Linked DNA regions of Homo sapiens. The protein of the gene in region 1 purifies or fractionates together with the protein of each later gene. This does not show direct contact. Each region holds a gene or a part of one and is shown in the gene's direction. Other genes may lie near its edges. The genes, in order: TEAD2, UBN2, SUPT16H and HOXB13.

What was found.
Region 2: the proteins of TEAD2 (region 1) and UBN2 purify together in Homo sapiens (affinity purification with mass spectrometry; 2 studies listed by BioGRID and IntAct, with this or other methods). This does not show direct contact.
Region 3: the proteins of TEAD2 (region 1) and SUPT16H purify together in Homo sapiens (affinity purification with mass spectrometry; 2 studies listed by BioGRID and IntAct, with this or other methods). This does not show direct contact.
Region 4: the proteins of TEAD2 (region 1) and HOXB13 purify together in Homo sapiens (affinity purification with mass spectrometry; 2 studies listed by BioGRID and IntAct, with this or other methods). This does not show direct contact.

Annotation. Positions count from the first base shown.
Region 1 is NC_000019.10:49,359,160-49,367,041, reverse strand, and holds the start of TEAD2 (transcriptional enhancer factor TEF-4), read left to right. Parts: upstream 1-4,625; 5' UTR 4,626-4,709; exon of another isoform or gene 4,710-4,745; intron 4,746-5,135; coding exon of another isoform or gene 5,136-5,166; exon of another isoform or gene 5,167-5,252; intron 5,253-5,524; exon of another isoform or gene 5,525-6,478; coding exon of another isoform or gene 6,479-6,509; exon of another isoform or gene 6,510-6,960; 5' UTR 6,961-6,966; coding exon 6,967-7,198; intron 7,199-7,542; coding exon 7,543-7,607; intron 7,608-7,882. Other genes in the region: DKKL1 (dickkopf-like protein 1), read right to left, coding at 1,157-1,249, 1,393-1,533, 2,288-2,460, 2,924-2,978. UniProt on the Homo sapiens protein: Transcription factor which plays a key role in the Hippo signaling pathway, a pathway involved in organ size control and tumor suppression by restricting proliferation and promoting apoptosis.
Region 2 is NC_000007.14:139,234,152-139,241,600, forward strand, and holds part of UBN2 (ubinuclein-2), read left to right. Parts: intron 1-2,853; coding exon 2,854-2,946; intron 2,947-7,449.
Region 3 is NC_000014.9:21,359,802-21,367,250, reverse strand, and holds part of SUPT16H (FACT complex subunit SPT16), read left to right. Parts: intron 1-721; coding exon 722-812; intron 813-2,107; coding exon 2,108-2,181; intron 2,182-2,311; coding exon 2,312-2,424; intron 2,425-3,747; coding exon 3,748-3,813; intron 3,814-3,922; coding exon 3,923-4,018; intron 4,019-4,101; coding exon 4,102-4,217; intron 4,218-4,303; coding exon 4,304-4,457; intron 4,458-4,926; coding exon 4,927-5,054; intron 5,055-6,037; coding exon 6,038-6,173; intron 6,174-6,278; coding exon 6,279-6,405; intron 6,406-6,717; coding exon 6,718-6,836; intron 6,837-7,449. UniProt on the Homo sapiens protein: Component of the FACT complex, a general chromatin factor that acts to reorganize nucleosomes. The FACT complex is involved in multiple processes that require DNA as a template such as mRNA elongation, DNA replication and DNA repair.
Region 4 is NC_000017.11:48,725,751-48,734,054, reverse strand, and holds the start of HOXB13 (homeobox protein Hox-B13), read left to right. Parts: upstream 1-5,304; 5' UTR 5,305-5,461; coding exon 5,462-6,062; intron 6,063-7,011; coding exon 7,012-7,265; 3' UTR 7,266-8,304. UniProt on the Homo sapiens protein: Sequence-specific transcription factor which is part of a developmental regulatory system that provides cells with specific positional identities on the anterior-posterior axis. Binds preferentially to methylated DNA.

The DNA of each region.
Region 1 (7,882 bases):
AAAAACAAAAAAAGAAGAAGAAAATCACATTTTGGGCCAGGTGTGGTGGCTCATGTCTATAATCCTAGTACTTTGGGAGGCAGAGGCGGGCGGATTGCCTGAGCTCAGGAGTTCGAGACCAGCCTGGGAAACATGGCGAAACCCCGTCTCTACTAAAAATAGAAAAATTAGCTGGGTGTGGTGGTCCGCGCCTGTAGTTCCAGCTATTCCGGAGGCTGAGGTGGGAGGATCATTTGAGTCTGGGAGTTGGAGGTTGCAGTGAGCTGAGATTGTGCCACTGTACTCCAGCCTGGATAACAGAGCAAGACTCCATTCTCAAAAAAAAAAACCAAAAAAACAAACAAAAAAAACCCCAAAAATCAAAACCACAATAACAACAAAAACATTTTGGAGTTTATAATGGAGAGGTTTACCAACCACTTTGGGATAGATTGAAAAATACTCTGAAGTTTGCAGAGCACTTACTTTGAGACAAAAACACAATTTGGGGTTTATGAGGGTGAAGCTTTCCAAGCACTTAGAATTAAAAACCCTTCTTGGTTTATAAAACATTTTGGTGCTCATAGAAACACTTTGATTGACTATTATGTAGTTAAAAAAAAAAAAGAAAACCACTTTGATACAAAACCCTCTAGGGTCTACTAAACCCTTGCAGATGTATTCTGAGGTCAAAAATCTCATTTCTGACAGTTGGATTGCCCCACTTGAGAGATGGCAAAACTGAGGCTCAGAAGGAGGAAGTTCCACACAGAGGAGTAAGAGGGTCAGTTCCTCTTCTTGTCCTCCTAAACTACAGAAAATGTTAGGGCCTCACCAGGCATGGTGGCTCATGCCTGTAATCCCAGCACTTTGGAAGGCCAAGATGGGCAGATCACTTGAGGTCAGGAGTTCAAGACCAGCCTGACCAACATGGAGAAACCCTGTCTCTACTAAAAAAATACAAAAAATTAGCCGGGCGTGGTGGCAGGTGCCTGTAATCCCAGCTACCAAGGAGCTTGAGGCAGGAGAATTGCCTGAACTTCGGAGGCGGAGGTTGCAGTGAGCCAAGATCGTGCCACTGCACTCCAGCCTGGGTGACAGAGTGAGACTCTTCTTTAAAAAAGAAAAAAAGAAAATGTTTGGGCCTGGACACTTTGACGGCGGGGCACGTCCTAACCTTCAAATCACCCTCGAAGCTCCCCTCCGCTGGTTGAATGGATGCCACCACATTCTCGGAGATCAGCACCTCTCCTGTCTTGTTGTCGGTCATCTGTGAGGATCCGATGAGAGAGTGAGAGCAAACCTGCTTTCCTCCTCCGCCCTCCTTCCCTCCCAACAGATACTGCAGCACGAGGGATGGCGGGATGGAGGGATCCCAAGGGGACTTCAGGAAGGGCTTCCCTGCATAGGCACCTTGTCGATCTGGAGGTGGCTGGAGAGGGTGTTGTTCCCCAGCTGGTGCTCCTGGTTCTCCTCTTTGTGGTAGTTCCCAGGGAGGCCCCGGAAGTCCATGGGGGCAGAGAATAAGCTGTCTATGCCCCGAAGCAGGTTACCCTGGGGCCGGAGGAGGGACTGGTGAGCTGCTGGACCTCACATCTCCTCAGTACAGCCCCTTCTGCAGCCCTGCTAGGATGCTCCCGAGGCCTTGCCCCAAGTCCCTCCCATCCCCTTTACTTTCTGCCCTCTGATACTTAGGGCCTAACCTCCGGCCTCCATCCCCCATGAATTCTCTCTCTATTCTCAGTCCCATTGCCTTACTATCCCTGTTCCTCTTCTGTCCCCATCCCCCTCTCCTCCTGTCTCTTTCCCCAGTCTCTTGTCTCTGTCCCATCTCCTCTCTCTTTGCCTGTTACCTTTCCTCTCTTATTTATGCACGTATATATTTATTTGTTTAGAGACAGGGTCTCCTTGTTCTGTCATCCAGGCTGGAGTGCAGTGGTGCTATCATGGCTTACTGCAGCCTCGACCTCCTGGGCTCAAGGGATCCTTCTGCCTCAGCCTCCCAAGCAGCTGGGATTATAGGCGCATGTACCTGCAACTATTTTTTATATTTTTTTGTACAGATGAGGGTCTCACTATGTTACCCAGGCTGGTCTCCAAGTACTGGGCTCCAATGATCCTTCTGCCTCAGCCTCCCAAAGTGCTGTGATTATAGCCTGGGCCCAGTCCCTTCCCTCTTCCTATCTCTTGGTCTCCCTGTTGCCCTCTCATCCTGTCTGTCCCCCTGCCTGGCCCTGAACCATCTCCCACTCTGTGTCCCTGAACCTCTTCTCAGTACTTCTTCCCCCATCCCCCCGCCATCGCTTACTTTCAGGAAAAGTCGGCTGAAGCCTTGGAGTAGGCTCTGGAGGCCTGTGAGACCCAAGGAGCTCTCTTGGGCGTCAGCATCATGGATAGGAGCTGCAGCGGAGGGGATCACCAGGGTAGAGAGGAGCAGCAGCAGGACCAGCAGATGCCGCCTTGCGGGGGCAGGTGGGGAGGCTGTGGCAAGGGTCGGGGTCAGAGCCCCGCACAGTGGCCACGCCCCCACCCAAGACGCCCCTCTCCAGCACCTTGCCCAGGTCGCCTCCCCAGTTCAGGCAACTCCCACACCGCGCTCATTTCCCCCACTGCTTCTTTCTTCTACTCCCACACCCTCCACCTTGCCAGGCCCCGTCTTCTCCCAGGTCTGGCTCTTCTGGGTTCTGTCTCATATGCTTTTTTTTTTTTTTTTTTGAGACCGAGACTCTGTAGTCCAGGCTGGAGTACAGTGGCACAATCACGGCTCACTGCAGCCTCGACCTCCCCGGGCTCAGGTGATTCTCCCACCTCAGCCCCCCGAAGTAGCTGGGACCACAGGCGCGCGCCTCCACGCCCGGCTAATTTTTGTATTTTTTGTAGAGACAGGGTTTCGACATATTGCCCAGGCTGGTCTCGAACTCCTGATCTCAAGCGATCCGCCCACCTGGGCCTCCCAAAGTGTTGGGATTGCAGGCGTAAGCCACAGCACCCGGCCTCATCCAATGGTCTTTTCCTCACTTTCGCCCACGTTCACCACCAGATCTCAATCCTCACCTTCTCCCATACCCCGCCCCTTCTTCTGGGCTCCGCCTTTATGCTAGACCACAGCCCGGGTCACCGGACTCCCGGATTCCGGCCGCCCACGTACTGTTAAAGCCAAACAGTTATGGTCTCGAGCCCAGGTCTGGTCTAGAGCGTTGGTTGCGCTCCGCGAGCCGTAGCCACGCCCCTATTGTCTGACCACGCTCCAAACTTGCCGGCCTCACCCAGGAGCCCGGGCCTCTACTCCATGACCACGCCCTTGGTGACACAGCCACGCCCCATCCTTCGTTCACCACACCCCTTAAGCCAGAGCCGTGAGTTCATTCCCTGGCCACGCCCACACAGTCAGACCACGCCCACGTCAGTTGACCTCAGTCCTGGAGACCAAGTCCTGGAAGTCCTGGCGGTGTTCTCTGATTGCGGCCCTCGTTTCGGAGTCCCGCCCAATCGCAATGGCCACGCCCCTTGGCTGAAAGCCACGCCCCTGCACTGGGCCACGCCCCTGCACTGGACCACGCCCCTGCGTCCCAGATCTTGCCCTCATCACCCCAAGTTCCAGTCCTAGGCTCCTCCTACTGGAGACACCGGAGTACAAGCATCCCTTTTAGCTCTCACTCTAATTGTGTATCTGTTTCGGAACCTTTTCTCCGTGTCCCTTCTGGTTTTCCCGCTCCCGCTCCACTAAAAAGTCCCGTTGTCTCCGGAAACCCTAAATCCAGTCTTATATTTCATCTTCCAAGGAACCCAGAATCAGACTTCCTTTTCCCTGAGGACCTCAGGTCCGGACTCCCGCCCCCTCTAGTCCCGTAATTTTGAACACGCAGCCTTTCACCCTTAAGGGACCGGGCCCTAAGCCATCTTCCCTCAGGCACCAAAGCTCTCTTCCCCGTCCCGGGACAGCCGCCAGCCGTCTCCAGTCCACTAGCGCCTGTAGATGAGGAATCTGCACCTACGTGGGCCTCCAATAAACTCCCGGTGGTCCTGCCCACGACTCTTAACTGTGGTGAGGTCACAAGGAAACCAGGTCGTCATAGGAATCAGTCAAAACCCATCCCCAGACCCCAATCCTCAAAAAAAAAAAAAAACAAAAAAAACAAAAAACAAAAAAACCAAAAACCAAACAGAAAAAAAGAAAAAAAACCTCAGGGCTTAACAGTAAAGACTCTTTGTATTCGTATCACTTCCGCACCCCCAATACACAAACACGAGGGTAGCCGGGATTCCAGGCGCCTAGCCCCGTCCCCTCTCAGACCTAGGAGCCCATATCTCTCTCCAGCCGCTTCCTCTCCCAGACCCAGGAGTCCCAGCCCCCAGACCCAGGAGTCCCAGCCCCCAGCCTCTCCTCCCTCAGATCAGGGGTTTCTGGCTCCTATCAGCCTTTTCCCTCCGACTTGGAGTCCGAACCCCCAATCCCCCTCCTTTCCCAAGCACCCAAATCCTGAGTTCCTACCAGCCCCGAGATAGACTAATCTCTCCCAAAGCAAAAATCCTTCCCCAAACTGTCACCGTCGGATCCCCCTTCCCGCTGTCCGCCGGCCGGGCCCGCCCCCCCCTCCGGTCCCTCCCACTTTTCCCAAACAAAGCTCCCGGCAACTTTCTCCCTCGCAGCGCCCCGCCCGCCCGCGGCTCCCCAGCCCCAGGCCGGGAGGTAGGAAGGCGCCGGCGGGAGTCGGGGATCCTGCTTTGGGGTGTGTGAGTTGGGGTGGGGAGTTGCTTCTTAGGAGGTGAGGCGTGCGTTTGCGGGACCGTCTCTGAATGGTTCGCAGCCCTCTTTTTGCCCGGGGGCCCGAATTTGCTCCCGTGACCGAGCCTCAGTGAGGAGTGGGAACTCTGGCCGGAGTTAGGGTGCCTGCGGCTGGGTCTGAGTTTGGGCGTGCGCGCAGGAGCGGGTGCGGGCCAAGGGCGCTGGCGGGGTGTGGGGCGTGCGTCTGCGGCGGTGTCACTTTGGAGTGAGAAGGACCCCTTGTGTAATCTGGGGGGCATTTGGTCCTTCTTACGGAGAAGGGAGGGCCTCTGGGGTGGCCGAGGGGAGGTTACGGGGCTTTCTGGATCTTAAGTCTTGCCTCTTTGGAGGTTTAGGGTCTGGGGCGGGAAATTAGGGGGACCTTTCTTACCCGGCTCCACCGTCCCTTTGTCTGGCCACATGGGGAAGGGCTGGGCTGGGATTTTGGCCTACGGGGGTCCTGAACGCCGCAGCGCCACTGGGCTTGGCTGGGGTCTTTGTCTGCTATGGTCGGCGGGAGGAGGGGAATAGGGGCCTGGACTCTGGGGTCCTGGGAAAGCTGTGGAGGACATGGAGCCTCCGGGGAGGCGGGATCTGACTGTATTGGAAAAAGTTTTCCCTGTTCCCGGCCTCCGGAAAGTCACTGGGAACTTGAGTTGGATCAGAGCCCACGGCGCACGGGGGAGGGGAGGGGCGGGGCCCGGTGCCGGAGGGGAGTCGCCCTGGCCGGCAAGCCCCTCCCCTGATGGGGGTTGTGGGAAGCTGGGGGAGGGGACGCCTGGGCCCTTTGTTCTGGCTCTTCTGATGGCAGGGCGCCCCTGTCCCCCAGCTTGTGGTTCTGTGGGTCTCTCCTGGTCTCGGCCTCAGCTGCTGCCCTGAGTCTCTGTCCCTGCCCTTTCTAGGTCTCCGTCTCCCTTTCTCTGGGTCTCTGTTGCCCTCTCTCTGAGCCTCTGTCCCCCTCTCTCTGAGTCTGTGTCCCCCTCTCTCTGGGTCTCTGGTCCCCTCTCTCTCTGGGTCTCTGTCCCTCTCTCTCTGGGTCTCTGTCCCCCTCTCTCTGGGTCTCTGTCACCCTCTCTCTCTGGGTCTCTGTCTCCCTCTCTGGGCCTCTGGACCCCTCTCTCTGGTCCCTGTCCCCCCCCCCCGGTCTCTGTCCCCCTCTTTCTGGTCTCTGTCTCCCCCTCTCCCTGGGTCTCTGTCTCCCTCTCTTTTTGGGTCTCTGTCCCTCTCTCTGGGTCTCTGTCCCCCTCTCTGGTCTCTGTCCCCCCCTCCCTCTGGTCTCTGTCCCCCCCTCCCTCTGGTCTCTGTCCCCCTCTCTCTCTGGGTCTCTGTCCCCTCCGTCACTGGTCTCTGTCCCCCCCTTCACTGGGTCTCTGTCCCCTTCTCTCTCTGGTCTCTGTCCCCCTCTGTCTCTGGGTCTCTATCCCCACCTCACTGGTCTCTGTCCCCCTCTCTCTCTGGTCTCTGTCCCCTTCTCTCTCTGGGTCTCTGTCCCCCCCCCTTGCTGGTCTCTGTCCCCATCCCCTCTCTGGGTCTCTGTCCCCCTCCCTCTCTGGGTCTCTGTCCCCCTCTCTCTAGACCTCCCCTCAGTCTTGCTTGGCCCCTCTTCTTTTCTGGCAGCTGCTGCTCACATCTTACCACCTGTTCTTGGGGTGGGACAGGGGAAGTTTCACCCACACCTTCCTTCCCCACCACTAACTTTTGCCTCCTGTCTTCTTTAAAACCCGTAATTCATACCCGAACCTTTAGCCTTCATGGCCCTCGGCATTACTCTAGGGTAATCATTGTGACTTCATCACAATTGAGTTCCTCTGGAAACTCTGAGAACACTCCCATCCTCAGCTTTCCAAGAAATCCAGCTCCTTCTCCTCCCTCAGACTCAGGAGTCCAGACCCCAGCCCCTTCTCCCTCACACCCAGGAGTCCAGGCCTCCAGCCCCCGCTCCCTCAGACCCAGGAGTCCAGGCCCCAGATCCTCCTCCCTCAGTCCTAGGAGTCCGGGCCCCAGCCCCTCCTCCCTCAGACTCAGGAGTTCAGGCCCCAGATCCTCCTCCCTCAGACCCAGGAATACCCCCCAGCTCCTCTTCCCTCAGACCCAGGAGTCCAGGTCCCCAGCCCCTCCTCCCTCAGACCCAGTGGTCCAGAGTCCCAGCCCTCTCAGCTTCAAGTCCCTTGAGGGTGGGGTTTGGGGGAAGCTTGCTGAGTTCTGTGTTCCTCCAGGCCCAGATGGGGGAACCCCGGGCTGGGGCCGCCCTGGACGATGGCAGCGGCTGGACGGGCAGTGAGGAAGGCAGTGAGGAGGGTACCGGCGGCAGTGAGGGGGCTGGGGGTGACGGGGGCCCGGATGCAGAGGGGGTGTGGAGCCCAGACATTGAGCAGAGCTTCCAGGAGGCCCTGGCCATCTATCCACCCTGCGGCCGCCGGAAAATAATTTTGTCTGATGAAGGCAAGATGTATGGTGAGTCTACTTCTGTCTTTTGCCCTGGCCCCCACTGATGAATAATGACAGTAACCAAGGTTTATGGAGCACTCTGAAGTAGGAGCTAGCATCACCATTTGCACAGATGAGGAAACTGAGGCACAGCTAGGTTAAGTGATTTGCTTATGGTCGCACAGAGCCAGTGCGTGATGGAGCTGGGATTTGAACCCAAGCAGTCTGGCTTCCACGTAGCTGAGGGGACCGGCAGCCCACTTGCTGCAGACCTTTGGGGACCCATGCTGCTTTCTTCTTCCCTGGTGTCCATGCTGTGGGGAAGTTCTGTTGAAAGTCTAACTAACTCTGTTCCGTCTTTGAATCTTCAGGTCGGAATGAACTGATCGCCCGCTACATCAAGCTGAGAACGGGGAAGACCCGAACTCGAAAACAGGTCTCGGAATGGACTTGTGGGCTTCTGTCTGGGATGGGCCGGTCTTCTTAGGGTCATCCTCGCATGGGCAGGTTCAGGTTCAAGGAAGAAGCTGCTTCCTGTGCGTTCATCTGTCTTCTCGGCATGTGTGTTAGTCCGTTTGTATTGCTATAAAGAATTACCCGAGGCTGGGTTATTTATGTATTTGTTTATTTTTTGAAATGGAGTCTAGCTCTGTTGCCCAGGCCGGAGTGCAGTGGCGCGATCTTGGCTCACTGCAACCTCTGCCTCCCGGG
Region 2 (7,449 bases), on another chromosome or scaffold:
CATTAGAATTGGTCTGGAAAGTTGGTGGTTCCCAAAATTAGAAGAATTAGAAAAGGAAGGGCTCCACATTTTTGAAATAGCCATCTATCACTAAATAAGATTTTAGCTCCAGATGCTGAAATTGGTAGATGTGGGGCTATTAAAAAAAAACAAACAACAAAAGGTGTGTTACATATGGATACCATTCATGTGGGTGCATTTAAATCAGTTCCCTTCTTAAATACTAAATGAACAGTAAAACCCTGATTTACTGGAACATAATCAGAAATTTTTCTATGCTCTATTTGTATTAATGAGGAAAGCACAATTAAATAATTTATGTTGGGAAAATAGGAAAAACAAAACCACAGGTTAGCTAAACCTTTAACCTTATTGTCTCTAGGCAGTACAGTGCTGTGATTGAGATGGTTTAGGATGATGACTGGCATTGGAATCATCTCTATCCTGAAAGATTAATTTGGTCACCATTTCTGGCTAAAGGGTAATAGTGCATTTTAGAAATAAATTTTGGCAATGATTGATACACAAGAAAAGGTTTAACTCTTAGTAAACCAGAAAAATCAGTTAACCAGAACACCCATTTGTGAACATGCTTAATTGAACATTTACTGTAAAAAGAAAAATAAGTGATTAAGTGTGTTAATGTAACTATACTATTTGAGAATTCCATGGTATTTCATTGTTTGCGTATTTTTGATGAAATTTGTGAAAGACCTCCTGAAAATGGTGTTGATGAGTTAAGATCAAAGGACAAAATTATTGCATCAGTTTTGCATGTGGGTAGTTGATAATTTTCAGATTTTTTTTCACCTGAAAAAACAAAAAAGCTTAATCTTGATTGGGGGAGGGTGTTTATTCTTAACTGTGAAAGAAAAGTGAGTCCATTTTCTTAAATTTGTTTTTGTAGGCTGTCAAGAGAAAATAAGAGCTGTACTTTTGATACCTACATAAAATACATAAAATATTTTAGAATGGCATATAAGGTGATTCTTATTAAAAATATAGATCCATGTGTTTATATTTATACATATAAAATGAGTCATACCATAGTAAGTATTTGGGCTTCACAGTGCAAGAGGGAGCAGTTTGTAATAGGCATGGCGATTGCTTACTGTCCTTAACCTGAGCCTCTGGTTAAGGCTACACCCTGGACATGCCTAGGATTCCTTATTAGTTTATTCTCACTAGTTTATTCCCTTTTGGATCATGTTTATGTTTTTCATTGGTAAATTTTTATTTTTATTTTATTTATTTATTTTTTTGAGATGAAGTCTCACTCTGTCTCAACCAGGTTGGAGTGCAGTGGCGCAATCTCAGCATCTCAGCTCACTTGCAACTTCCACCTCCCAGGTTCAAGCGATTCTCCTGTCTCAGCCTCCCGAGTAGCTGGGACTACAGGCGTGTGCCACCACACCCAGCTAGTTTTTGTATTTTTGGTAGAGACGGGGTTTCACCATGTTGGCTAGCCTGGTCTTGAACTCTTGACCTCAGGTGATCCACCCACCTTGGCCTCCCAAAGTGCTGGGATTACAGGTGTGAGCCACTGCGCCTGGCCTTTCATTGGTAGCTTCTGTTGGGGTGAACTATTCTATAAATTTATTACTTATTACAATAATTTTAAAAATTGATTTTAAAGTTAACTCCTTTAAAGAAGTATCCCTTTATTCTAATGTCCCAAGTGTGAGGAATTGTCTCGTATTCATTCTGTCCACATTTTTCTATCATGTTTTTTAGACCGATCATGTCTCAGTCTTTATATCCAGGATGAAGTGTCTCAGTTTCAAAGTGTGCACATCTTCCTTCTGCATTTTTTCTTGCTCTTCAGGGTCCATTGAATCTGTATCAATATTTCAGTTGTAGTATACCTTCCTTTTTAAATTACCTGAGTCAGTTGTCTGAAATTGGATAAAAGTAGTATTTTTATCCTTGTTTTGGTTTTTTTGTGCATTGAAAACCATATATATGTTTGTATACTAAAATAGAAGACTTAAGGATGTGATCGCTATTTTTGTTTGTTTTGTTAAATAGATGGTTAATGTGAGCTTCTAGCTCTGTGTGTGTGTGTGTGTTAAACCATGTATTATAATAAACTTTCACTCTCCCCTACTAGAAGAAAGGCATGGTAATGTAATCTTTTTGCAGCTATTTCTCTTTTCTAGCTTTGTTTAAAAGTAATGTGTATTCCCTGAATGGATATCCATTGACAGAATATTGGTGATACAATGGTTGTTGATATTGGACCTCAACAGAAAGCCTTAGCCGCTACACACACTCAGTGTTAACTCACAGGCAGATGGTTGAAGTGTTGCTTTTAATTAATAATCTAGAGCTCCTTTTAGAAGCATTTCCTGATCAAAGCAGTTAATCTTTGTTAGTGAAGATATCAATCTAGAATTATAAGTGAGATTTTCATATTTAGCTAGTGTTCCTGGGGATTTTTTTTCTTTGTTATTTTGGATGAGGTGACCATGTGATCATTTTGCAGGTGAAGACAATTTGGATTGTTGAGTTCTTACTCATCAAAACACTGTGAAATGTATATGAGTCCATTATAACTGTAAATTTTTTTTGCTATGAACCAACTTTTTTTTTTTTAGTTTTAATACTTCTGACTTACTTGTTAGTATTAGGAAAAGTTGTCTCGTATTGGTTAAATTTAAGATATAGTCTCTGAGTAATAATATAATTAATTATATAACATGTTATATATTCTCACTAGTTTATTTCCTTTCAGATCACATTTATTGAAATAGAATTGAAGTGGTTGTTACATAATGATAAATAAACAAACAATAATAATATTTGTAATACTAATGGATACTTCTCTTTCTTTTCCCATTCACCTTGAATCAGAAGAAGCTCATTCACACAGAAGACCCATTTAATGATGAACATCAGGAGAGGCAAGAGGTGGAAATGTTGGCTAAGAAGTTTGAAATGAAATATGTGAGTATAATAAACTGATCACTTAGGTAATTTTATCCTATTGACCTGTTTGCTTTCTGTGGCTGGTTGGGAGGGCCTATAAATATCCGTTGCCTGCCTTACTTTGTTCTCACCAATGGAAACCAAATGAATGGTTAGACAGTCAAATAAAGATTCCAACAGGCTTGTGATAGTTAAAGTAGCCATCATTCATTTTTATTTTTATTTATTTATTTTGGAAACAGGGTCTCGCTCTGGTGCCCAGGTTGGAGTGCCGTGGTGCAGTGTTGGCTCACTGCAACCTCCGCCTCCCAGGTTCAAGCCTTTCTCATGCCTCAGCCTCCCAAGTAGCTGTGACTACAGGGGCAACACCACACCCAGCTAATTTTTTGTATTTTTGGTAGAGACGGGGTTTCACCATGTTGGCCAGGCTGGTCGTGAACTCCTGACCTCAAGTGATCCATCCTGCCAAGTAGCCATCATTTATTATAGTCTTTCTAGAGTCTGGGCGGTTTGCTTTACATATATTATCTCCAATCTTTGTAACAAAACCACAAGCTAAGTAATATTGACCATATTTTACAGATGAGGAAACTGAGGCTCTGAGTTCAAGATTAAGTAGCTGATACAGTGTCACACAGTGGCAAGAGTAGGCTACAGGTCCAGGTCTGTGTAGCTCTAACTCTGTTCCCTTTCCGCCACCATCGAGAATGCTATTTTAATTCCTTTGGTATAGTAGTTCTGAAACCTTCCTGCCTCCTAAGAGTTTGAGAGTGAATGTGTGTACTTCTAAGCTCATTGCGTCAGACTCAGAACCAGCATGAGACTTCTTTGAAAGTGTCCGGTTTATGCTAAATATTCATGTACATTTTATATTCAGTGCCACAATATAGTGGTGTTTGTTTGAATACAAAAACAATTTTTAATTACCTGATTAAGTTGCTTAACATTTTTCTCAAATTTTCTAGTATTACTAAATTTGTAGAAAGCCCCACTCCTCACCCCACATTTACACTATGGCTTTGAGTACTCTTGGCACTTTACTAAAACATAACCCAGTTGAGAAGCAACACCTTACCCCTCTGATTCCTCTGTGAGCATTGAAAAGTATCCCACAGGAGAAAGGATATCAGCTCACATTGGCCTTGTCATTGAGGGCCTTGTACCCTCAAGATACAACAGGGATCTTGACCCATATGTGCTGGCTCCTTGTGGTAATTAAGAAACCATTTGAAGGTAGAAGAAGTAGATGAGAATAGATTGGAATTGGAATCAGGTCCTAGGCCATACTTTGCCATCTGCTAATTGTGTCCTTTTGGTGAGGTTTTTTAGCTTTGGGCCACAGTTTTCTTTTTCTCTCTTTTTTTCTAAGACAGAGTCTCTGTCACTCAGGCTGGAGTGCAGTGGTGTGATCTTGGCTCACTGTAACCTCCACCTCCTGGGTTCAAGCAATTCTTCTGCCTCAGCCACCTGAGTAGCTGGGATTACAGGCATGCACCACCATGCCTGGCTAATTTTTGTATTTTTAGTAGAGATGGTTTCACCATGTTGGCCCGGCTGGTCTCGAACTCCTGACCTCAACTGATCTGTCCACCTTGGCCTCCCAAAGAGCTGGGATTACAGGCGTGAGCCATTGGGCCTGGCCAAGGGTACAGTTTTCCTATCTATAAATTGAGAGGTTCAGATTTTTCCGAGACCCTATTGTTCTCTATTCTGTGACTATATAATAATAAATTTAGGGATAGACTGGTGGGTGTTTAAATAGAAGGAATAGCATTGTAGTATTTAATTACAGTGTAATCTTTTGAGACTATATTGTATCATGATGTATAAATTGTAAAATCCTATAGGATGTATAAATCCTAAAATCCTAGCATGTATAAATCCTAAAATACTGTGTTTTTTATACAAGTTATACATTGGTTACACTTAATGTTTTAACCAACTAGTACACTTATGTGGCTCAAAATTCAAAAATTAAAAATCTTCCTTTTATTGTATTGCCCACCCATGGAATCCCACTTCCTAGGCAAGTAACACTCCTGTGGTACTAGAGATACATCTCTATACATACACATCTATTCCTTTCCCACCCCCTTTTTATACATATTATAGAATTGTACACACTTAAGCTCTTTGCTTTTTATTTACTGTATCTTAGTATATTTGGGGGGGTCATATCAGGACAAAGTGCTTTCTCTCCCTTTTTTTTAAGGCTGCATGCTGTTTCATTGCATGGAACTATCACACTGTAACCAGTCCCCAAATGATTTAGGTTGCTTTCAAAAATTTGCCCTTATTAATAGTGCTGCAGTAAATTAGTCTGTAAAATGGCATTTTACACAATTTCAAGTTTATCTCTAGGAGAGATTCCTAGAATCAGACGATTCAGGTCGGAAGATTTATGCATTTATAATTTTAGTATATATTACTAAATTACCAGTTCTACTCCCTCCATCACTATATTAGAGTGTCTTTTTTTTTTTTTTTTTTTTTTTGAGGCAGAGTTTCACTCTTGTTGCCCAGGCTGGAGTGCAATGGCGCTATCTCGGCTCACTGCAACCTCCACTTCCCAGGTTCCAGCAGTTCTCCTGCCTCAACCTCCCAAGTAGCTGGGACTGCAGGCATGCACCACCATGCCCAGCTAATTTTTTGTATTTAGTAGAGATAGGGTTTCACCATGTTGGTCAGGCTGGTCTCGAACTCCTGATCTTAGGTAATCCACCGCCTTGGCCTCCCAAAATGTTGGGATTACAGGCGTGAGCCACTGCGCCCAGCCTAGAGTGTCTATTTTGCTGTGGGTTACAAAATCAAGGATTTTAGAATTGCCCTTTGCAAATGGAAAAATTCCTATATATAATCCTATAAGTAAAGTGATTCAGTATATGACGCACTACCTTAAAGTTAGCATTAAGTCTTCTTAGTCAACCCTAGGATAGTATCTGGCATAGAAAGATCAGCGTTCTGAAGAAGTTGTTTGATGCGTGAAATTGAGTTTCAATTGACTTAGATATATTTAAGCCTTGTTATTTTGTTTACAGTGATAAAATATTACTCTTGTTATAGTCTAAATTAATGGGCTATATTTCTTCTCTGGATTTTTATTTTGCTGACTTACTGTCTTATTTCCATTCTAATTAGAGATTGTATGTATATTAACCAAAAAGCATGCCCAAGTGTTATATCTATGAGTATTGTGTGTGTGTGTATATGTATATATATATTTATTTGGTAGAGACAGGGTCTTGTTGTGTTGCCTAGGCTGGTCTTAAACTCATGAGCCTAAGCAATCCACCTGCCTCAGCCTCCCAAAGTGCTGAGTTTACAGATATGAGCCACTGTACCCAGCCTAAATATATATATATATATATATATATATTTTTTTTTTTAAATAATTATTTGGAATCTTTTAAGAAAATCATCAGGCCAAAAGTGACCTGAGAGAAGATACATTGTCCTGCTGGGCGTTATATGCCTAGAGCTCTAGGCTATCACAAAATCTCTCTCTTAAACTACAATGATCTTTATTGGTGTTTGGGGCAGGTGTTGCAGCAGTTGAAGATCAGTGATATCAGAAATTACAGGGAGTATAAAATTGTAAAAAGAGCACCCTGCATTGAATTTATGGGGTTCCCCCCTCCATTGTGTCCTATTTTTATGGCCATGTTCTGTTTCCTGTTATGTTGTTCTTATGCTCAGGTAATGTGACAGTTCATATTCAGCATCAATTACTAAATGGTTTTTTGGGAAAAGGTCAATATGACTATTAAGTACCTATTTTTACCTAGATTATACTAAATTGGTTGTTGTACATAAATCTTTTTAAATAGCTAAGTCCAAGTTTTGACATTTCTACAACCGTATAGGCTCCAGATTCGTCTTGATGGTTAGAAAGGAGGCAGGATACAGGTAAAAGAGGCTCCCATGCCTCTCTTTATTCCCAGTTAAGGCTCCAAAATGTTTAGGCAAAACATCTTGGTTTCCAATTCAGTTTTTAGATAGTCTGTAGGTAATATATGCCTTTTATGAGGCCACCTATACTCTATACTCAGGAGTAGGATGCTTCAATTTGATGGGTATAGACTTGTTATCTTAGCCTTCTAGGACATAGGATAACCTATAATTGTTGGAAGATTTCTCTTAGTGATTTTTTTCTCACTCCATTACCCCAGCCGTTCTGAAAGATCATACTGTCCTAGAATTGGATATAAATTCACTAATCTAAATGAAAGCACCTAACACAATACCTTGTGCCTAGCAGGGGCTCAGTTAAGACTCTTTGAATCTGAATGACTCTCTGAATAGGAAGACATATATTCTGCCAGGCATTTATTAATAATCATGAAATCACATTATAACTTTAAAATCTGCTTACTGTGCTATATAGACCTTGAATACTATCTTTCACACTTAGTTCTATGTGGTTTTGGGCTCTCAGAGCCCTAGTAGTTTCATACTTCTTTTAAAAAGAAGGGTAAGGGTAGATTTGATAGTAGAAAAGTAATTCTGAGCAGTCTTATAAAT
Region 3 (7,449 bases), on another chromosome or scaffold:
ATGATTAAGAATGGGATCGGGGCCGGGTATGGTGGCTCAAGCCTGTGATCCCGGCACTCTGGGAGGCCAAGGTAGGCGGATCATGAGGTCAGGACCATCCTGGCTAACACGGCGAAACCCCATCTACTAAAAATACAAAAAAATTAGCCGGGCGTGGTGGCAGGCACCTGTAGTCTCAGCTACTCGGGAAGCTGACGCAGGAGAAAGGCGTGAATCCGGGAGGTGGAGCTTGCAGTGAAGTAGGATCACGCCACTGCACTCCAGCCTGGGCAACAGAGTGAGACTCCATCCAAAAAAAAAAGAATGGGGCCAGGTGGAGTGATTTACACCTATAATTCCTGCACTTTGGGAAGCCAAGGTGGGAGGATTGCTTGAGTCCAGTTTGAGACCAGCCTGGGCAACATGGCAGACCATGTCTCTACAAAAAATAAAAAATTAGCTGGGCATAGTGGTGTGTGCCTATAGTCCCAGTTACTTGGGAGGCTGAGGTGGGAGGATCATTGAGTCTGGGAGGTCAGGGCTGCAGTGATCCGTAATCATGCTACTGCACTCCAGCCTGAGTGACAGAGTGAGACCTTGTCTCAAAAAAAAAAAGTGAGTGGACTGTTTAGTTCACACTTTGAGAAACACTGCTTTAGGGGACATAAATTTTGATTTTAAAATGTTACTGAGTTTTTTTCCTAAAAGATACTTTAATATCTCCTTTGTGTCTTGTTATTAGGTGTGAAGATATGTGACGTGTATAACGCTGTCATGGACGTGGTTAAAAAGCAGAAGCCAGAACTGCTGAACAAAATTACCAAAAACCTAGGGTATGCCATGATGTCTATTGTCATTCTTGAGTCAGTTTTCAGTTAGACTGTCAGTGGTCAGTCTTATTTCTTTAGGCTAATTGATTGATTCAGCCAACATTTATGGACTAGCAAACTATACTATGTGCCAGGCACATGATGTTATCAGAGAAGGTGAGACAGATTTAAGTTCTCCCAAGTGTATAAGAGAGATTTTTCTAGACCAGTGTGGTGTTCCAGCCCATAGGTTTTCCAGGATATAATTACAGATGTTAGGAAATATTATCAATACATACTATATCTCCTCTCTCCGTGCACATTTGCAACTTAAGTACTCTGAGATGTCCTAATATTTTATTTAGAGACAGGGTCTCACTCTGTCCAGGCTGGAGTGCAGTGGTGCAGTCGTGCCTCACTGCAGTCTAGACCTTCTGGGCTCCAGCAATCCTCCCATCTCAGCTCCCCCAATAACTGGGACCAAGGCACGTGCCACCACACCCAGCTCATTTTTTTATTTTTTGTAGAAACAGGGTCTCGCTATGTTGCCCAGGCTGGTCTTGACCTCGTGGGCTCAAGCAGTCCTCCCACCTTGATCTCCCAAAGTGCTGGGATTACAGATGTGAGCCACTGTGCCTGGCCGTTTGTTTGTTTTGGGGGTTTTTTTTTGTTTTGGTTTTGGTTTTGGTTTTGGTTTTGGTTTGTTTATTCAATCCAGTGTATTTCTCAAATGTATTTTATACATTTCTCAAATGTATTTTATCACTGAACACCTAGAAATACCTAATAACGTGTAATGGAACAAAGGACATTTTGGGAAACAAAGCTTTATGTAGGCATTCTCTTTAGATGAAAACTAGTCTATGGTATATAGTTTCTAGACTTCTCTCATGGAAATATATACCTATATAACAAGTCTTACGAATCTGGTTTACCAGTGTTCCACTAAAAATTGCCCCTTTTAATCTAGTAATTACTGTCTTAGTAATGTACCCCTTAATAATCTCTATGTTGTTTCTAGGAGTACTACTGACTTGATTTTATGGTAGAAGGTTAAAGTTTAAATGTGGGCAAATAAGCTAAAATTAAAAAGGCTCGATATAATCAATTAGGAAATTATTTTTCGCCATGGGATTATACAGCATGTTTAGAGGCCAAAGACTGTCTTTGAATCCTCTTTTCTAACTGAGCGGTCAGCAGGGGTAAATCATTTCAAACATGTTTGCCTGTCTTATTGTGAAAGTTGAAATGAATATGTTATGCTTGATCCATGTTAGAGATCTTTAGCCTTTTGCTGATGTTTATCTGTTTCTTTTCAGGTTTGGGATGGGAATTGAATTCCGTGAAGGCTCCCTAGTAATCAATAGCAAAAATCAATACAAACTGAAGAAAGGTAAGTTTCACATACAATAGGAAAATGCTTTTGTGAGTTACTTCCTTTAGCTTTATTTTCTTTTAGGCATATGTCTCACACCTCTCCACATTGTCACAGCCACAGACTGATCCTTGTTTTGCTGTTTTAGGAATGGTTTTCAGCATCAATTTAGGATTCTCAGACCTGACTAACAAGGAGGGGAAAAAGCCAGAAGAGAAAACCTATGCCCTGTTCATTGGTGACACAGTGCTTGTGGATGAGGTGTGTATTGTGTCTAAACTTTGGAGTCTTCATGAACTAACTTCTGAGGCACGTTTGTGGACCCTGTGGTTTTTTTCTTGCTTTGTTAAATGCTAGCTAAGGGGAAGAATCCGTGTGACAGCCTAACCTAATGCAGCTAGGAATAGAGACTGTAGCCCAGGTATAGGGAATGATATAAACCTTTAAATCATATTGTCATATTGTGGCTTGAACCTTGATAATGATAATATCAGGAACTAATACTAATAATGAAACCGGTTATTCTTTTTTCTTTTTAATAACAGCTTTATTGAGCTACAATTCACATACTATACAATTCACCCACCTGATATGTACAATTTAGTGATTTTTAGTATTTTCACATTTGTGTAACCATCACTACAATCTAATTTGAAAATATTTTCATCACCTCAGGAAAGAACCCTGAACCTATTAGCAGTCACTCCCCATCCCCCTTCCCTTCCCCCACTGGTTCTTCAGGCCTAGGCAATGACTAAACTGCGTTCTCTCTAAGGATTTGCTAAATATCTGAGCAGTTGATGTAAATTCAGTCATACCCTATGTGGTCTTTTGTGACTGGCTTCTTTCCCTCAGCGAACTGATTTTTAATAATAGTGAGCACAGATAGTTCAGTGTTTTTATCATAAGCTAAGCAGTTTACATTAATTCATTGAAATAGTACCTTGTGAAGTAGATACTCTTATTACCTCCATTTACAGATAAATTGAAGGCACAGACAAGTTTAAGTAACTTGCCAAATGTCACTGAGGTAGAAAGCAACTGAGCCAGGCTTCAAATCAAACCTGTATTAGTGATTACCCAATGTTGCCTCCCAAATTGTAGCTCTTGGCTGGGCGCAGTGGCTCACGCGTGTAATCCTAGCACTTTCGGAGGCCAAGGCAGGTGGATCACCTGAGGTCAGGAGTTTGAGACCAGCCTGACCAACATGGTGAATCCCCGGCCCTACTAAAAATACAAAAATTAGCCAGGTGTGGTGGTGCGCGTCTGTAATTCCAGCTACTCGGGAGGCTGAGGCAGGAGAATCACTTGAATCCGGGAGGCGGAGGTTGCAGTGAGCTGAGGTCACGCCATTGCACTCCAGCCTCGTTGACAAGAGTGAAACTCTGTCTCAAAAAAAAGAAAAAGAAAAAAAATTGTAGCTCCTGACGAGAGGTTAGAGGTTAGAAGGATAAAAACTATATTTATTCATTGTCAAACATTTTAGTGTCCAAAAGATTCAAAGCATTGCCCAGCCGTTTACTAGGTTAGAAAATGAAATTGCCTCTTTTAAATAATGTGTCTTCATTCTCCTTTTAATTCTAGGATGGCCCAGCTACTGTTCTCACTTCTGTGAAGAAGAAAGTGAAGAATGTGGGGATTTTCCTAAAGGTAGGAAGAAGATAGATAAGTAGTATAGGAAGTTTAGGATATAAAGAAGTTAAATAATATTGGCTAAAATAATTAAAATTTCATTTTTTGATTATGACTTTTTCCATAGAATGAAGATGAGGAAGAAGAGGAGGAGGAGAAAGATGAGGCAGAGGACCTTTTGGGAAGAGGTTCTCGGGCAGCATTACTTACAGAAAGAACAAGAGTAAGTTTACTATTTTAAATTACATTGATCTCGGCTGTCATATGGCTCACGTGTTGTGATAAATTGGATTTTCCATTCACCAGAATGAAATGACTGCAGAAGAGAAGCGAAGAGCACATCAGAAAGAACTAGCGGCTCAACTCAATGAAGAAGCAAAGAGGCGATTGACTGAACAAAAGGGAGAACAGCAGATTCAGAAGTAAGAGTTTTCACTGAGCAGTGAGATCATCTGAGGGTTCTGTGGGACTGCAGAAATTTCTCAGTTGTTTTTTTATCCCACTCCAGAGCTCGCAAGTCTAATGTGTCCTATAAAAACCCATCTCTGATGCCTAAGGAACCACATATTCGGGAAATGAAGATCTACATCGATAAGAAATATGAGACTGTAATAATGCCCGTGTTTGGCATTGCAACACCGTTTCACATTGCCACAATCAAGGTACTGACATTCAGTGCATCAGGTTTCATCCAAACTGTTGCTTAAAATAGTAATTGTATTTGCCATAAATAATCTGCATTCATCATGTCTCCCACTTTTGACTCCTTCAGACTCTGTTCAGTTACTGACATCCCTCTTGTCTTGTCATTCTCCTTCCTCTTTCAGTTTTTTTCACTTAGTAGAAAGCTAAACTAGTCTAGAAACATAATTTGCCTATCTTTCTTTCAACTTCGTTTAATCATTGTTTAACTTTTAGTTGTATTCATGGTACAAGGTACTTTGAGAATTCAGAGATTTTTTTGGGAAAAGGATACTTCGTTATTAAAAAGATAAATTATGTAAATTTATTAGATTTAGATTAAGGTTAAGAGCGGTCAATTTGTAACTCCTAACTTAATTTTAACATCTCTGTAACTACTAATCTCTAGGAAAGAAATCTGTTTACTTTTTATGCTTTTCCTTTGAACAGAATATAAGTATGTCCGTGGAAGGAGATTATACTTACTTGCGAATCAACTTTTATTGCCCAGGCAGTGCTCTGGGCAGGAATGAAGGCAACATCTTTCCTAACCCTGAAGCGACTTTTGTCAAGGAAATGTGAGTCCCCAAGAAAAGTCATACCCAGATTCATCTTGTCTGGAGTGGTACTCTCAGAAACATTTCATTGTCTGTGCTACATTTTCCCTACCTAGTAAATGTCAAAGCCTTCCTCATTGGTACTTGTTTCGGATCGCCTTCTTGACTTTGTACTATTTTCAGGATGGATCCCAATTTAGAATCTTCTTGAAGATACTATATATTTACTAAACATATTTTGAGCCTGGGTAATATAGTGAGACCTTGTCTCTTCTAAAAAATAATTAACCAGGGGTGGTGGTGTGCACCCGTCATCCAGCTACTGTGGAGGCTGAGGTGAGAGGATTCCTTGAGCCTGGGAGGTTGAGGCTGCAGTGAGCCCTGATCTTGCCTGTACTCCATCCAGCCTGAGCAACAGAACGAGACCTTGTCTCAAAAAAAAAATAATTATGAAAATAAGTGTTAAAAGTAATAAACATATATTGCAGTAGAATCTTCAAATAAGAAAACTGGTGCCACATTGGATTCTATGATTTCATGGTGTGAAATGGGATAATTTGGGGATGTTATACCAGATTTGAAAAATGAAAAAAGAAGGAATGGGCATGCATGGTGGCTCACGCCTGTAATCCCAGCACTTCGGGAGGCAGAGGCAGGCAGATTACATGAGGCCAGGAGTTCAAGACCAGCCTGGTCAACATGGCAAAACCCTGTATCTGCTAAAAATACAAAAACTAGCCGGGCATGGTGGTGTGTACCTGTAATCCCAGGTACTTGGAAGGCTGAGGTGGGAGGATGGCTTGAACCCAGGAGGCGAAGGTTGCAGTGAGCTAAGATTGGGCCACTGCACTCCAGCCTGGGTGACAGAGGCACACCCTGTCTCAAAAAAAAAAAAAAAAAAAAAAAGCAAAGTAGAGATTAAGCTGCTTAGAAGATAAAGTAAATCAGTACAATTTCCCTGGCCTGAAAAAGAAATGTCTATAAATGCTGTTGCTTTTCTGCAGTACATACCGAGCATCAAATATTAAGGCACCCGGAGAACAGACAGTACCAGCCTTGAACCTTCAGAATGCTTTCCGAATTATTAAAGAAGTACAGAAACGTTATAAAACTCGAGAAGCTGAAGAGAAAGAGAAGGAGGTGAGCCTGAACACAGGCAAAACATTCTTACACAAAGAAGGACATGTATTTTTTGGAGACTTGTAAGGATATGTGACAATTCACATTAATTTTCTTCTTGCTTAGGGGATTGTAAAACAAGACTCACTGGTGATCAATCTAAACCGGAGTAATCCGAAACTGAAAGATCTATACATTCGCCCAAATATTGCCCAAAAGAGGATGCAAGGCTCACTGGAGGCCCATGTCAATGGTATGGATGATCTCTCCTGTACCTAGGCTTTCTCTTCAGGGCACATTTGTTAGGAATGACAGATCAGATAATAAAATATGACAAAGAGCCATCCGCCGGTTAGCTCAGTTGGTTAAAGCATGGTGCTAATAAAGTATGACAAGGAAATGCTGGGAGGAATCTACTTACACTGCTGTGTGGCCAGAAGGAAAGGAAAGCTCTATACAGCTGTTGGTGTTTCCTCTGACCCTGTGCAAATCAGCCAGAAGAGTTGCAGTGCCTTTTGGCCTAACTTAATTATACTGCTTGACATTTCTTCATTCTTTTCCCCAGGCTTCCGCTTCACATCTGTTCGAGGAGACAAAGTGGATATTTTGTACAATAATATTAAGCATGCTTTGTTCCAGCCCTGTGATGGAGAAATGATTATTGTCTTGCACTTTCACCTCAAGGTATACCTTTCTACTTAACTAGCTGTCAGCTCTTGGGCAAGACACTTCATTTCACTCAGCTTCTTTCCTATAAAATAGTGATGAAAGGGCTGGGCGCGGTGGCTCATGCCCACAATCCCAGCACTTTGGGAGGCCGAGGTGGGTGGATCACCTGAGGTCGGGAGTTCGACACCAGCCTGACCAACATGATGAAACCCCGTCTCTACTAAAAATACAAAAATTAGCCAGGCGTAGTGGCCAGCGCCTGTAATCCCAGCTACTTGAGAGGCCGAGGCAGGAAAATTGCTTGAACCTGGGAGGCGGAAGTTGCAGTGAGCCGAGATCGCGCCATTGTACTCCAGCCTGGGCGACAGCGTGTGAAAAACAAAAAACAAAAAAGTGATGAAAAAATCACCTCTCACTTAAGAACATTTAAGAGGATTAAATAAAATAATGCCTCTAAAGGCCACAAGGCCTGGCATCTAGAAGGGGCTCATAAGCATGTTTGTTCCTTTGGTGTGTTATATGGTGGCCAGCAAATGTTTTATACGAGATCTCCAGATTTCTCTTTCTAAAATGAAGTTTTGCTTTAGATAAGATTTGTTACCAACATGATTTCCAAAGTTCCTGTAAT
Region 4 (8,304 bases), on another chromosome or scaffold:
TGCAAAGGAAAAACGTGTGTGGCGGGCGGAGGAAGGGAAGTAAAACGGAGATGAGAGAAAGAAAAAAGAAATAGAGAAGAGAGAGGAAAAAAAAGGAAGGAGGAAGGAAAAATGAGAAAACTGAAGAAGGAAAAATGAGGAAGAAAAAGCAAACAAAGAGAAAAATAGTGTAAGTGAGATGAAAGATAGGGAGAAAAGTACTAAAGGGAAAATGAAGATAGAGCAAGGGGTGGGTGGCGGAGCCAGAGAGTGAGCAATAACAAGAAAAGGAAAGAAAGAAATCAAGAAAGAACACACAAAAAGCAAGATAACTGAAATGGAAGGAAGCAAAGGCGGTGAGAAAAACACAAATATAAAAAGAAAAGAAGATACCAAGCCTAAGACAGAGGAGAGAAAATGCAGACGGAAGGAAAAGATGAAAAGAGGAAGGAAAGAAAAGAGCACACCTCAATTAGGCCATTTTCATAAAATCGAGAGGAGCCGGGCGACCCCAAGCAGTTCAGCCAGACCTGCGCGGCCGGCGGGACCGTGGAGCCAACCTTTCGGGAGAGGGGAGCGTCGCGCTGCAGAGAAATCCTCTCTATTCATCACCACCGACCTGACGGCCGCCATCGTCGCCGCCACAGAGTTTGCTCCAGTTGGGAGAACGAAGGCAGCGGGCGCTCACTTTACAAAAAAATAAAACGTAGTTTAGCAAATGCCCACTAGTGCGACGGGTGGGCGCCTCCCGCCCCCACCCCTCGTTGGCGGGTCCCTAGCCTGGGTGGGGGCGGGAGCTGACACCGAGGTGCCAAGTCCCCGTTGCCGGAACCCCCGGGGGCGCGGCGGCCGCGCTCAAAGGCCGGGCTGTAAAGGTCACAGGCTGTCTGTGGGGCCGAGCTGAATGGGCTCCTGGAGGTAAACAGACTCTTAACTTTCAACTTGGCCTTTACCTTCCTGGAGGTGTCTGGCGGGTATGTAAAGGAGCACGCTGAGGCTTTCAGCGCTTTTGGCTGGGTCAGTAAAGAAAGCTGGGGGAGGCTCCGGGCTCCCGGAGGGTCTGCCAGGAGGCTCCCAGCAGGACACAAAGGCATCTGTGGGGTTAGGGGAAGGCCAGGCTCAGCCCAGTCAGTCTGGAAGATCAGGACGCCTGGGTTGTGCAGGGACTTCCCCGCTGAACCCATGTAGAGCCCCAGGGAGGACTTGGAGGCTCTGAGCCTCAGTTTCCCGATGCGAGAACTATGTAGCTTACGCAGGGCTGAGGGGGCAAGTGAGAAGTGACTGACACTCTTTAGGGCAACTGTCCTTTTCAGGTAAAAGCAGGTTGCTTGTAATTCATTAGAAACAGAAACACATGGAGGAATACAAATAGAGCTCATATTTATTCAGATTGTGAAATGCTTTTATGTGCAAAATCTCATTATATCATCACAGTATGTGAGGAAAGAATTATTATCCATATTTTACAGATAAGGAGACTTAATCTTACTTTACCTGATGCCGGTTGAGATCTATGATAGGTCATGGGCAGATGCACACACATACCTATGTACAGGAAATAGGGGCACATACCCAAGTGTTAATAAATATGAGATCCAAAGCTGGGTGTGGTGGCTCATGCCTGTAATCCCAGCGCATTGGGAGGCCAAGACAGGGGGATCACTTGAGGCCAGGAGTTCGAAACCAGTCTGACCAACACAGCAAAACCCTGTCTCTACTAAAAATATAGAAAATTAGCTGGGCCATAGTGGCACACACCTGTAATCCCAGCTACTCAGGAGGCTGAGGCATGAGAATCACTTGAACCTGGGAGGCGGAGGTTGCAGTGAGCTGAGATTGTACAATTGCACTCCAGCCTGGGTGACAGAGTGAGACTCTGTCTCAAAATAAATGAAATGAAATGAAAGAAAAATGAGATCCAGAACTGTTCCCTGGGATCTAGCAGATGCTAAATAAATTGTAAAGCAAATAAAACAAGCACTATAGAATTTATTTGTATTGAAATGTATCCATTTACAGGAGGGTCTCCAGCACAGCTGGTGACCTTCACTCCCGCCAAGTTTAAGTTAACCATCTCTGCATTCCACAACACTGCAGTTACATGCACTTGGCTACTTATTTCAATGAACATGGATAAGAATGCTATACATCCAAAAGCACAGTTTCAGGAAGTGTTGCAATGAATTAAAAAAATTTTTGTTTTTAATTATTTTCCTTAACATTTGAGATATAGCTGATATGCAATAAAGTGCAGAAATACCAAGTGTATAGCTTGATGAATTTTCACAGTGAACAAAGTCTTGTAACTAGCAGACAGATTGAGATGGAGACTATTTCCAGCACCCCAGAAGGCTTCTTTATGTCCTTTTCCAGTCAGGAGACCTCTCCCCATGCCAATCTCTATTCTGACCTCTATCACTATACCATAATTTTGCTTGTCATTGAACTGCATAGAAATGTAGAAACTGAATCATACAAAAGTTACTCTTTTGTGTCTGGCTTCTTTCATCCACATATCTGTGATTCATCAATGTTGTGTGTAGTAGTGGTTTATTCTTTTTCAAATGGCTGTGTAGTACTTCATTGTATAATTATACTGTGCTTTCTTTATTCATGCTACTGCTGATAGACTTTTGGGTTGTTTCTAGTTTTGAGCTACTATATTTTGATTTCATTATGAGATGGGGTATCCCTATTATCCCTATTACCCCTGTTGCCCAGGCTGGTTTTTTTTTTTTTTTTTTTTTTTTTTTTTTTTTTTGAGATGGAGTCTTGCTCTGTCACCCAGGCTGGAGTGCAGTGGCACGATCTCGGCTCACTGCAAACTCTGCCTTCCAAATTCAAGCGATTCTCCTGCCTCAGCCTCCTGAGTAGCTGGGGTTATAGGTGTCCACCACCACAATTGGCTTTTTTTTTTTTTTTTTTTGTAGTTTTAGTATAGAGAGAGTTTCACCATGTTAGCCAGTCTGGTCTCGAACTCCTGACCTCAAGTGATCCACCTGCCTTGGCCTCCCAAAGTGCTGGGATTACAGACCTGAGCCACTGTGCCTGGCCCCAGGCTAGTCTTGAACACCGGGGCTCAAGCGATCTTCCCACCTCCACTAGGATTAGTAGCTAGGATTACAGGCGTGCGCTGCCATGGGTGGCTTTGAGCAACTACAGATAAAGCTGCTGTGGACCTACTAGTACATGACTTTTGATGGATATAAAGGTTCATTTCTGTTGGGTTTATGCCCAGGAATGGAATTGCTGGGTCATAGGGCATGACTATGACTATTATTATTTTTTAAATTTAGGGATCTATTAATGCCTCTACTGTACAAGGATGAATAAATGTGCATGTGTGGGTGTTTGCCTAGTGGAAACTAAAACTGTGGACATGCCCTACATATCTATCATCTACCAAGTAAAAATTGGTGAAAAATTCTTAGTCTTTAGGTAAAAGTCTGGATATTTCTGCAGTTCATAATTAGACAAGCAAGAAACTCTGGTGAGAAACTGGAAAGCACTGAAGAGACATCTCCTCCCTTTTCTTCCATATTGTTTTCAAATGCGATCTAGTGAAGATTTCGTGCTTGGTGTCTTCAATTATAGCAATGCTCATTAGGAGTGATGTACACTACTGCCTGTGGGCCCTTTCCCACAAAGTGGCTCAAGTTCAAGGTCAGGTTGGTGAGAGGCTATGATTGAGTCTGCCCAGAGTTTAGGGTAAGCCATTCCATATAATTGTCAAGACCCTCGTGTAGAATGGAAACATTCCTGTCTTCTCCAGAAAAACTGGGAGTTCTAGAAAAAGCAGACAGAAGGATTTGATTTGGGAGGGGTAGTAAAGGAAGCGGAAAACCTCTAAAGACAGATTTGTGAAACAAACCGTTTGATTCTTCTGAATTGCACTGCACATTAGGCCCCAACAGAGGGGCCTCAAGCAATTCTGCCAGTGGCTGGGGTTTCCCCTTCCATTCCCTTTTCCTTGTAAGGAAGTTTAAAGCTTGCAGGAGGCAGATAGGGGTCTTGGGCTTTCTGGGTACTCAGCTTGTGTGGGAGTATGCCAGTATCAGGGACAGTTTCCTGGGCCCCTTGCAGACCATAGGGAGAGGACTGCAGGGCAGGGAGACTGGCATCTCCACACAGGCGTCTGTATTCTTGGGGTCCAGAACTCCCGCAGCTGGTTTCTGGCAGTCAGCCAGGCTTGGCTTCCTCAGACTTCTTTAGATCCCAAAAAAGGGGGAAAGTGCCTCTCTTCTTTCTCTTTTCTGACTGACACTTCAGGATTTTACAAGATTTTGTCCCATCCGCTCTGTCAGCTTCTCTCTTTCCCTCTTTGTGTTGCTGTCCCTGAGTCTCATCTCTCCCTCTCCCCGTCCCTCCCTCAAGTCCTGTGGGTCTCCGTCCCTCCGTATGTCTTTACTTAAAGGGAAATCCAGACCCTTCCACAGGCCACTCTAGAGGCTCCATTTCCCCTTCAGGTCCGGAAGTGGAGTGTCCTGGGTTCCATCCAGATCGCATGTCTTCTACGTCTACGTTCGTGTCTCCCGCCTCTTCCCTCAGCCTCACCCGAATCAGGGCCTCCAGAGCATTCTGGGCAGTAGCGAGTCCCTGGGTAAGGGGCGTCCAGGGCACCTCCCTGGGGCCCGGAGCAGCTCATTCCAGGACATCTGGGACAGGAAGGGTACCGGGAATGAACTGGGGTGCTAGTACCCAGGACCCAAAGCCAGGGGCTGCCAGAAATACCTATTAACCCCCATTTCCCAGCCTCCTCTTACACAGGCGCATTCCCGGGTTCTCCTCTGAGGCCGGGAGCGGCCTCCCAGCCCCACCCCCGACTCCCCTTCCCCCCCAGGAGATGGACACTTTATAGAGAGAGCTTTTTATTCTCTCGTTAAACCTGTCAAAGCGCAGGAGACAGAAAGCTAGGGAGGGAGAGGAGGAGAAGGAGGTGGGGCCCGGCTCCTCGTCCCCTCTTCCTCCGCCCACCACGCCTCCCCTCCCCCCGGACGTGTAAATGAGACTCTGCAAACTGGAAAGCAGCGAAAGGACACCTCCTTCCTTTTCTCTCTTGTTGTTTTTAAGTGGAATGAGAGAGAGAGGAGTGGAGAGGGAAAAGAAGAGAGAGAGGGAGAAGAGAGAGAGGAGAGAAAGAGCGAGAGAGCGAGAGAGAGAGACAGAGACAGAGAGAGAGAGAGAGAGAGAGAGAGAGAGAAAGAGAGAGAGAGAGAGAGAGAATAAGCTGGGGTAAAGTATTTTCGCAGTTTCTGCCTTTAGGATTTTATTAGCTTCTCTCCCCCAGGCCGCAGCCAATCAGCGCGCGTGCCCGGGCCCCTGCGTCTCTTGCGTCAAGACGGCCGTGCTGAGCGAATGCAGGCGACTTGCGAGCTGGGAGCGATTTAAAACGCTTTGGATTCCCCCGGCCTGGGTGGGGAGAGCGAGCTGGGTGCCCCCTAGATTCCCCGCCCCCGCACCTCATGAGCCGACCCTCGGCTCCATGGAGCCCGGCAATTATGCCACCTTGGATGGAGCCAAGGATATCGAAGGCTTGCTGGGAGCGGGAGGGGGGCGGAATCTGGTCGCCCACTCCCCTCTGACCAGCCACCCAGCGGCGCCTACGCTGATGCCTGCTGTCAACTATGCCCCCTTGGATCTGCCAGGCTCGGCGGAGCCGCCAAAGCAATGCCACCCATGCCCTGGGGTGCCCCAGGGGACGTCCCCAGCTCCCGTGCCTTATGGTTACTTTGGAGGCGGGTACTACTCCTGCCGAGTGTCCCGGAGCTCGCTGAAACCCTGTGCCCAGGCAGCCACCCTGGCCGCGTACCCCGCGGAGACTCCCACGGCCGGGGAAGAGTACCCCAGCCGCCCCACTGAGTTTGCCTTCTATCCGGGATATCCGGGAACCTACCAGCCTATGGCCAGTTACCTGGACGTGTCTGTGGTGCAGACTCTGGGTGCTCCTGGAGAACCGCGACATGACTCCCTGTTGCCTGTGGACAGTTACCAGTCTTGGGCTCTCGCTGGTGGCTGGAACAGCCAGATGTGTTGCCAGGGAGAACAGAACCCACCAGGTCCCTTTTGGAAGGCAGCATTTGCAGGTACCTCTATTACCCTGGGTCCCCTTGTCTCTGAGCCTGGGGTTGTGGGTCCCAATGGCATTTCCCTGGGAGGAGGAGGAGGGAGACTTGGAGCTGGTGAGGATGAGCTTGGTGCTCCTCCCTTGGTTATTAGGACTCTGAAGGAGGTCTGAGTAGCTGGAGGGCCTGGATGGAGGTCAGTGTGAGGGGCCTGAGCTGGGTGCTATCTGAAGCCTGAAGGCCACCTCACTTCTCCAGGAGGCCCTGGGACCAGCCTTTCAACATGTCTGAGAGGTTTAGATCTCTTTGCTGTTGAGTGGGGATCAGGGTGTCCCTACCCAGCACAATTCCAAACTAATTCTACACAAAAGCTAAATAACTCTCAATTCGGTGCGTGGGGAGTGGGTGTGGGAGATGGGTAAAAAGGTATTGGATGTACTGTAGAGAATACAACCTCTCACTTTCTATTAGATGAGTTTTCCAATTTCCAAAGAAAAATTTAGGTTTCCTGCAGCCGTGACATATGTGTGTGCACTGGGATGGGTTAATGTGTGTGTGTGTGTGTGTATGCGCATGTATTGGGAGTGGGGGCAGAAACGTGTTTCCAGAATTTGCCTGTAGAATCTAAAAGAGTGGCCAAGAGTCTGGAAATGCATGAAGACTGGACGTATGTGATGGTGGGCAAAGGCCTGACTGTGTGTGGTGTGTGGGTATGTTTGCAGATTCGCGGGTGTGAGAGCAGTGATGGGTGAGGGTGGCCTTCAGGAGCCAAGGCTGAGCGGTGGTGAGAGAACAAGCCGGAAGCCAGGGTGCTGTCCTGGTATGCTTTGGAGGAACAGGATTGCACGTGCGCCTGTAGGGTGACCTGTGTGCACCTGTGAGATGACTTAGCTTGGGGCTTGCAAGGCCTGGGTCTGCATGGGTGGGTATCTGACCATGCCTTTTCCTCCCTCCCTTTCACGCCGCGCAGACTCCAGCGGGCAGCACCCTCCTGACGCCTGCGCCTTTCGTCGCGGCCGCAAGAAACGCATTCCGTACAGCAAGGGGCAGTTGCGGGAGCTGGAGCGGGAGTATGCGGCTAACAAGTTCATCACCAAGGACAAGAGGCGCAAGATCTCGGCAGCCACCAGCCTCTCGGAGCGCCAGATTACCATCTGGTTTCAGAACCGCCGGGTCAAAGAGAAGAAGGTTCTCGCCAAGGTGAAGAACAGCGCTACCCCTTAAGAGATCTCCTTGCCTGGGTGGGAGGAGCGAAAGTGGGGGTGTCCTGGGGAGACCAGGAACCTGCCAAGCCCAGGCTGGGGCCAAGGACTCTGCTGAGAGGCCCCTAGAGACAACACCCTTCCCAGGCCACTGGCTGCTGGACTGTTCCTCAGGAGCGGCCTGGGTACCCAGTATGTGCAGGGAGACGGAACCCCATGTGACAGCCCACTCCACCAGGGTTCCCAAAGAACCTGGCCCAGTCATAATCATTCATCCTGACAGTGGCAATAATCACGATAACCAGTACTAGCTGCCATGATCGTTAGCCTCATATTTTCTATCTAGAGCTCTGTAGAGCACTTTAGAAACCGCTTTCATGAATTGAGCTAATTATGAATAAATTTGGAAGGCGATCCCTTTGCAGGGAAGCTTTCTCTCAGACCCCCTTCCATTACACCTCTCACCCTGGTAACAGCAGGAAGACTGAGGAGAGGGGAACGGGCAGATTCGTTGTGTGGCTGTGATGTCCGTTTAGCATTTTTCTCAGCTGACAGCTGGGTAGGTGGACAATTGTAGAGGCTGTCTCTTCCTCCCTCCTTGTCCACCCCATAGGGTGTACCCACTGGTCTTGGAAGCACCCATCCTTAATACGATGATTTTTCTGTCGTGTGAAAATGAAGCCAGCAGGCTGCCCCTAGTCAGTCCTTCCTTCCAGAGAAAAAGAGATTTGAGAAAGTGCCTGGGTAATTCACCATTAATTTCCTCCCCCAAACTCTCTGAGTCTTCCCTTAATATTTCTGGTGGTTCTGACCAAAGCAGGTCATGGTTTGTTGAGCATTTGGGATCCCAGTGAAGTAGATGTTTGTAGCCTTGCATACTTAGCCCTTCCCAGGCACAAACGGAGTGGCAGAGTGGTGCCAACCCTGTTTTCCCAGTCCACGTAGACAGATTCACAGTGCGGAATTCTGGAAGCTGGAGACAGACGGGCTCTTTGCAGAGCCGGGACTCTGAGAGGGACATGAGGGCCTCTGCCTCTGTGTTCATTCTCTGATGTCCTGTA